Linked DNA regions of Homo sapiens. The protein of the gene in region 1 purifies or fractionates together with the protein of each later gene. This does not show direct contact. Each region holds a gene or a part of one and is shown on either strand. Other genes may lie near its edges. The genes, in order: GSX2 and KLHL8.

Region 1 (4,440 bases):
GGGCATCCCTACAACCCAATTACACTTCTCTAGCAGGCAAGAGAGACTGTCACAGAGATGGAGAGGGGAAGACAGAGGATGGAAAGATAGAGCCGTGCCTCTAGCTAGTGCTCTCCTGGATTTGGGCACCTTGTTCTCTCAGGTGGAGGGAGTCCTGTCTCTAAGTTTCTTAGCACCATCATGAACTCAGGATTGAAGTTAGCTGCTCTGGAAAAAGGATCAGACTTCTAACTATTGCCCAACCACATGGCCCCAGCCCGCTTTTCTGCAGGGGGAAATGAAGAGAGAAAATGGCCACCTCTGCTGCCTTGCCTTCTCCGAAGATAAATAGTCCCAATAGTTTGGCAGCCACCCTCTCTCGGGCAGTAAGGGGTGTGCAAGACTTCCATGGACCAGAGAGAGTTCCCTTACAAAGCCACTTCTGCCAATCAGAGGCAAGATTCCCTGGATGGCTGAATCCTCTTCATCCTTTTTAGGTTCTTAAGATGCAGAGGAAAGAGTGCTTCCTGGTTAGCCTTGCTAAGCTGCCCATGATTGGTAAAAATGAGGGACAGGAAATCCTCAGACCCAGAGCGAAGGTCTATCTAATCCCTGCTGCGTCTTTAGGAGGGCTTGGTGTTTGAGGTCCTCCCTCCAAAATCTTCAGGATGGAGTTTGTAGGATTGCCCTGGAATGCCATGGTGTTACTACTTGGAGAAAGAAAAGGGTGACTCTTCAACATCTCTCTCTCTCTGCGGAAGTGGGAGGTGCCGATCAGAAAGGGAAACAAGGAAGGGTCGTTGGTCTGAGTGGCCCCAGGAGGGCCCCAAGTACAAAGACACTTCAGACCTTGTCGAACATCAGCATGAAAAGCTTGACGGTTTCTTAGCTGGGAGGCCTCACAGTTCTGCGCCGGACAGTCCTGAACTAACCACCTGAATGACCTCTGCCAAGTCCAAAAGCTGTGGACAGGGGTAGGTGTAACCGTGGCCAGAGCTGCGCTCAGGGACTGGACGACTGCCAGTCCGTCGCCCGCACAATCCTGCTCCAAACCGCAGGCCTCACACTTCACCGCGCCGCAGCCACCCCTACCACAGAGGAGCTGGAAACACTGAGCATTCCTATTAAATAAGCCTCCAAGTCCCCACCTGGTACGCTTTGCGGTGGGGCGTGGGGAAGAGTTGGGCTGCGGCCAGGGTAGCGAGAGGGGGTGGGATGGAGGATGCAGCGCTGTGATTTCTCAGTAAAGCGTGGAGAAAGAGGGGGAGGAGGCCGGCCTCCCCGGGAAATTAACAAAACCTACACTTTGCAAAGTCTCCCCCATCCCCCTCCCCCGAGTTCTTCCCCGCCGCGCGCCCGCCCCTCCTCGCGGCTTCTGTTGTGACTCGGGCAGCCTATCCCGAGGGTGCGGAGCTGCCGAGGAGCCTGAGCCGAGCGGTACTCCGCAGCATCACGTGCCAGGGTGGGGGGCTATAAAATACCCGAGCCGGGGCGCCGGGCGGGGGACGTGAGGACCAGCCCTCTCCGGGGACCCCTTTGTTCCCAGCCCAGACGCCAACACCTCTGCGTCCCCAAGGGCTTGACTGCCCGTGTCTGCGCGGCTCCCAGGGCAGAGCTTAGAACACTAGAGGAGAGGGGTCGCCGCGAACTGCCGGGGCTTCCAGCCACCCACCCCTCTCGACATGTCGCGCTCCTTCTATGTCGACTCGCTCATCATCAAGGACACCTCACGGCCTGCGCCCTCGCTGCCTGAACCGCACCCCGGGCCGGATTTCTTCATCCCGCTTGGCATGCCGCCCCCATTGGTGATGTCCGTGTCCGGCCCCGGCTGCCCGTCCCGCAAGAGCGGCGCGTTCTGCGTGTGCCCTCTCTGCGTCACTTCGCACCTGCACTCCTCTCGGGGGTCTGTGGGCGCCGGCAGCGGGGGCGCAGGGGCCGGGGTTACCGGGGCCGGAGGCAGTGGGGTGGCAGGGGCCGCAGGGGCACTGCCTCTGCTTAAGGGCCAGTTCTCTTCGGCTCCTGGGGACGCGCAGTTTTGCCCGCGGGTGAACCATGCGCATCATCACCACCACCCGCCGCAGCACCACCATCACCATCATCAGCCCCAGCAGCCTGGCTCGGCCGCGGCGGCGGCAGCAGCAGCAGCGGCGGCGGCGGCCGCGGCGGCCTTGGGGCACCCGCAGCACCACGCACCTGTCTGCACCGCCACCACCTACAACGTGGCGGACCCGCGGAGATTCCACTGCCTCACCATGGGTAGGGCGGGGTCTTGGGGCACCTGCGCTCCGCGCCTTTCGCGCTCCTGGAGCAAACTTTCCACCTCCAGTGGAGGAAGTGGGAGCCCGGGGACAGGGTGAAGAGAGAGGACGGGCTTTTAGTGTAACCGTAGAGTCAGCCACAGAAGTTCCACGAAAGTGGAAGTTAGTTTGCCAGCTTCTCCACTCAGCCTGGTGCGTTTTACTCCTAGTAGTAGGTGCTCGAGTATTGCCTTATTAATACTGGGGCCTTAGGGACCTCGAACGTCACGGCGGATAAACCAGAGGTTAACTGCTTGGGATTTGGGGTGGGTGTGTTTGAACCTGTGTGGCATCCCCGCGTCGGGGCGGCTAAAGCGTCTTGACGTTTTTGGCTAAGCCTGCGCGCTTCTCCGCTTGGCTCAAAGGGAGGCGATCAGATAGTGCAAGCCCCCATCCCTCTTTAATCCTGTGACTTCGCATCCTGCGCATCGAAGACCTTTATTTGCTTTGCACGTCTCTTTTCTTCCCCGCTAAGCAACCACGTGCCTTGAAATGGGAAAGGGATACAGATGTTCGGCTGGGCTTCCCCGGGTGGGTCCCTGAAATGCGTCCTGGTTAGCACATGGGGTGGGAGCACCTTGCCCGAGCCTTACCTCTCTACCCTCTCTTCGCCGGTCCGCAGGAGGCTCTGACGCCAGCCAGGTACCCAATGGCAAGAGGATGAGGACGGCGTTCACTAGCACGCAACTCCTGGAGCTGGAGAGAGAATTCTCTTCCAACATGTACCTGTCTCGACTCCGGAGGATTGAAATCGCCACTTACCTGAACCTGTCGGAGAAGCAGGTGAAAATCTGGTTTCAGAACCGCCGAGTGAAGCACAAGAAGGAGGGGAAGGGCACGCAGAGGAACAGTCACGCGGGCTGCAAGTGCGTCGGGAGCCAGGTGCACTACGCGCGCTCCGAGGATGAGGACTCCCTGTCGCCGGCCTCAGCCAACGATGACAAGGAGATTTCCCCCTTATGAGGGAGGGCCTCCTCCCTCACATCCCCCGCTCCTGGCAGACCAGGCAACGCCAAGGCGTGGGGCACCCAGGGGCCAGAATCCTTGCTCATTGCAGTGGTCCCATCTGGAGAAGAAACGAACCTGGAAGTTCTGGAATGGACAAGCCGGGACCTGACCCTTCGCGTCTCCTTCTTGACCTGTTTATCTAGGACTCCAACTTGAAGTTACAGATTTTTTTAAAAAATGTAAATAACCTATAATTCAACTCATTCTTGTCGTATAACAGAGGAAAAACAGGGTTGGTTTAAGTTTAACACTGTATGGGGTTTTTGAAAGCACATGTCAGTTCCCCATCCCTACTCTCTTTCAGAACTCGATAAGAACACAGGATTTATTGATTATTTTCTGTTGTCGTTTTCAAACAAAAACACCCAAGTTGAAAATAATTTAGAAAATTAGACCTTGTAGGTCTTGCTTTCTGAAATTTCGCCTGGGGAGAATTTAAAATCTAAGTCGCTGGAAGTCCCTTTGTATGTGAATAGGTTTATATAAAATTTATATTTATATTTATTTAAATAAATGAAACAAAAACCAGAATTTTAAATCTGTGGTGTTTGCTCTCCCTATCTTCTCCTGCCCCCTCCTCCAATGTCTAGAGAAAGGCATATGCAGGAAAAAGCTGTCTGAGGAATTCGAGGAAAATGTTGAGTAAGAACTTGGTAATGTGGGTCTCTTGACTGAGGGAGTTTGTGGCTCAATGGGTTTTCTATGTAACAGAACTTTCGCCAAGGAGACACCTTTAGTCATGATGGCATCTACCAGGCAGTGCCTCTCCATCCTTAAAATAGGCAACCTCCTCACAGTTGATAGGACAAATCACTCCATTTGGAATGACACTGACCATTAACGACAGGTAAACCTTTATTTAGCAAGGAAGGGTAAAAATCCCCCATCTAGTTTTTGTTTTCTTCTTTCTACTTCCTCATTTCTCTCAGTACGAAAACTTGAATTATGTGAAGGAATTTGTAGAGTCAGAATAGTTTTAGGAAGAGCAACAATCCATCAAACAGGTCAGAAGCAAACAGTGGAAACTTAATAACGATGCTACAAGCAGAATTAGCGGGTTTCCCTCAATGTTAAGAAAACAAAAAGTCAGGGACAGGAAGTATTCTGTTCAAAGATTTATAATCTCACTTTTTCAAAGCAGCCCAGAGATGCCTTT
Region 2 (3,815 bases), about 33 Mb from region 1:
TCTAATATTTATATTCTCATCAACATAAACTGGAATATATGCTGATTAATGTATCAGTCTAAAGGGAAGATTTTTAGTAACATACTTAGTACTCTAACCTGTTTGACACTTTCATTAATGACTTGAATACCAGCTTTTTAGATATCCTAAGGTGGAAAGATCACTAAGGCATGTGACCAAATCAGGATTCCAAAGACGGAGTAGACCACATATACTCTAGACAAAAACCTAAAAAATGTTAAAATTAGAGTTATAGGTTAAAACCTGCCTTAGGTATTTTAAAAACTCAATCCCACGAGTACAACATAACATGGTGGGAAATCAGGTTTTTGATTGTTTCATATGGAGAAAAGTACCTGAACCATTATGAAACACAGCTCTTAAAAAAAAGGAAAGGAAAAAAGTGAATATAATACAGTTGCCTACATTAAAAGAAGTGAAGCCTTAGATTAAGGGAGTTATAGTTGTATTGTTCTTGACACTGATCTCTCCGTATCTATAGATGTATTGTTGAAGTAGGGTATATAACACCAGTTGGGGTATGGGAATAAAAGATTAGACTCTCTGTACATTTTTAAAAATTTATTTTGGGTGGATGTTTTATAATGAACATAACTTGTTAGTACAGTAACATGTTTATAATTTGAAAATAAGATCTATAGAAAATGCACAAAAATGGATTGTAATAAATGTGAGAATGATAATCTGGAATGCATGTAAGAAAAAACTAGCAGGTTAGTAATACAACTGAAAACCATGTTATCTACAAAAAATAGTTGAAGCGTTGTGATCTGGAGACAAGAAAACTTACAGGAGTTACTAGATATTTTAAGAGTGTATGTTGATTTAGTAGGAAGGAATAAATATTTGTTTATGATTCAGTATAGTAGCAATGAAGCATACTGTAATTCCTCCTAGTGATTGGAATTGTATTGTCAGAAAGATCACATATATTTTGCACCAAATGGGAGATTAAATTTTATTGCCTATTTTTTTTCAACTTTATTGTTCTGTTAATAGCGTGAGGATTTCAAAGACTGAGCTTAATAATTTGTATAAAACTAGATACTAGAATAATTCTGTCTCTGTGTCAGAGTGAAAATATAATGCGAGAAGAGAGAAGAGGGCTATCTTAGTAAATATTGAAAATATTGCTGAAGAGTTTCTTTTAATAAAACTGCAGGTGGGCCGGGCATGGTGGCTCATGCCTGTAATCCCAGCACTTTGGGAGGCCAAGATGGGCGGATCACCTGAGGTCAGGAGTTTGAGACCAGCCTGGCCAACATGGCAAAACACCGTCTCTACTAAAAATACAAAAATTAGCTGGGCGTGGTGGCGGGTGCCTGTAATCCCAGCTGCTGCGGAGGCTAAGGCATGAGAATCGCTTGAACCCAGGAAGTGGAGGTTGCAGTGAGCCGAGATTGCGCCATTGCACTCCAGTCTGGATGACAAGAGCAAAATTCCGTCTCAAAAAAAAAAAACTTGCAGGTGATATATATATATACACACACACATACACACATATATATGATATATAATGATACTGACCTTAATATATATAAATGTATCACCCACAGTTTAATTAAAAGAAACAAACCTGAACTAGTAAAACCATACCTGAGACATTGTGGCTTATATGGTTGGCAAATTAGCACCATTCTGCAAAAATGACTTGTTATCAAAATGAGCAATTAAAAACTAAACCACACATGGGGATATGTTGCCTCTAATTTTCTATTTTTGATTAATAATATTTTCAACTGGTTTTTGCTTCTTGTGTTAAAATATGAAAGATTAAAAAAAAATGTGAAGACATTTTAAGCTTTTTTTCCCCTCATGAAAAAGAATCCTAGAAAAAAAAAAAGCTAGTCTTAAACTGTTATCTCCCACTGTCTACAAATGACATTTTAATACTTTAATAGGGAGTGATTTACACTATGTGATAACTGCATGGATTAAAATGGGAGATAAAATCCCAAAGTACTTTTTTAATCTTTATATCCCTGTTACTATGTTGGTTTTTAGCCAAAGATTGAATGAAACTTCTCTAGCAAAATAGCAATTGAATTTCTTTAATCTTTTAAAATATGCCCCGAGCATTTACAATCTGTGTGAAAAATAATAGAGCTACAATTATTTTGTCATATTATTTGTTTATAACTTATATAGCCCCAAATCATCTTTTTGGCATTTCAATACATTTTCACATGTGAAATATCTGGTTATCTTTATTTTTTTATTTCATCTTTCCACTGAAATGGACACCGATGTTTGTTTAAGCTATGAGTCTGTTGAAACCCATCATCCTGACAGCATGTCTAAAGGTTCACTTATTTATTCAAAAAAAAGTTTTAAATGCCCACCACAAGACACACCAAGTGGTAAAGATACAACTTTGTTTTTTGCTACCAGCAGTAGAAAACATAGCCAGTGTCTCTGCCTCTGTATAGCTTACATTGTAGAAGAGAAGATAACAAATAATGACATAAGGGCAATAATATTAGCATGGGGTGAGTAAAGGGTGCTTGAGGAGTGGAGAACATCTTAATGAAGTCCCATTTATTATGATCTGAAGGAACTGCAGAATTTAGCCTGATTAAGTTATTATAGGTGGGGTAAGAGTGGTAAGTGGAGGGAGATGAAGAGCCTTCAAAAACCAGGCGATGAAAGAGAGCAAAGAGCATGAAAGTGGTCCAATGTAGTTGGAAGATTAAGGGGAAGAGTGTCTAGAAATGAGGCAGAAAGAGTAAGTAAAGGTTGAAGGCCTTTCAAGTTTGCCAAGGATATTTTATCTGATGGGCTTTGAATTAAACATATATATTTAATATGCATGTATAGTAAATATACATTTTATATTTTTATTTAAATAATAGGGGAATTGTAGGATCAGATTTCTCTTTTCAGAGAACTTCTGCATTCAAAATGGAGAAGGGATTTGAGGATGACCAGAGTGAAAACAGTCTGACAGACCAAAAAGGGTTATTGTAATTCTTCATCCCTTGATGTAAAGAAATAATGGTGGCTTAGACTATACTGATAGAAATTGAGATAGAGAAAAGAGGACATATTTGAAAGATAGTTCAGAGGTGTATGGTCAAAAACACTTTATGATAATTAGAAAGAACAGTTAGGTAGAGGCAAAGATGATTCTTCGGTTTCTGCCTTAAGCAACTGGATGGATAATGGTATGATTTCTGAATTAGGAAAACAACATGGTGAATGGGATAAAATTTTTGTTTGTTTTGTGATGGGGTTGTATTAATTTTCTATGTCCATGTAACAAATTGCCCCCAATTTAGCAGCTTAAAATAGCACCCATTTATTAGCTCACAGTTCAAAAGTCATGCAGGTTTTGCTAGGCTTTCTACTTAGGGTCCCACAAGGCCAGAATCAAGAGATTGGGCTAGGCTTTTGTCTGGAGGCACTGGGGAAGAAGCCACTTCCAGGGCCATTTAGGTTATTGATAGAATTCAGTTCCTTGTGGCTATAGGACTGTTTCTCATTTTTATTGGCTGTTGGCTACAAGTCACTGCCAGATCCTTCCCACATGTTCCCCCCCACCTTCAAACAAGCAATGGCACACTGCATTCACTTGGTTTTTTGAATTTCTGACAATCAGCTGGAGAAACCTCTCTGCTTTTGAAGGTTTGTTTGATTAGATTAGGCCCGCCAAGGTCACCTCCCTTTTGCCATATAATGTAGCATAGTCATGAGAGTAACACCAGGGGATGAAGGTCATGGGGGATGAGGAGTATCTTAAAATTCTGCCTACCACAGCGAGGTGGGCAGTGAGTTTCATTTCAGATTAAAGTTAA

Evidence for each region.
Region 2: the proteins of GSX2 (region 1) and KLHL8 purify together in Homo sapiens (affinity purification with mass spectrometry; one large-scale study listed by BioGRID and IntAct). This does not show direct contact.

The regions. Positions count from the first base shown.
Region 1 is NC_000004.12:54,098,684-54,103,123, forward strand, and holds GSX2 (GS homeobox 2), read left to right. Parts: upstream 1-1,479; 5' UTR 1,480-1,661; coding exon 1,662-2,235; intron 2,236-2,898; coding exon 2,899-3,239; 3' UTR 3,240-3,815; downstream 3,816-4,440. UniProt on the Homo sapiens protein: Transcription factor that binds 5'-CNAATTAG-3' DNA sequence and regulates the expression of numerous genes including genes important for brain development.
Region 2 is NC_000004.12:87,171,950-87,175,764, reverse strand, and holds part of KLHL8 (kelch-like protein 8), read left to right. Parts: intron 1-3,815. UniProt on the Homo sapiens protein: Substrate-specific adapter of a BCR (BTB-CUL3-RBX1) E3 ubiquitin ligase complex required for The BCR(KLHL8) ubiquitin ligase complex mediates ubiquitination and degradation of RAPSN.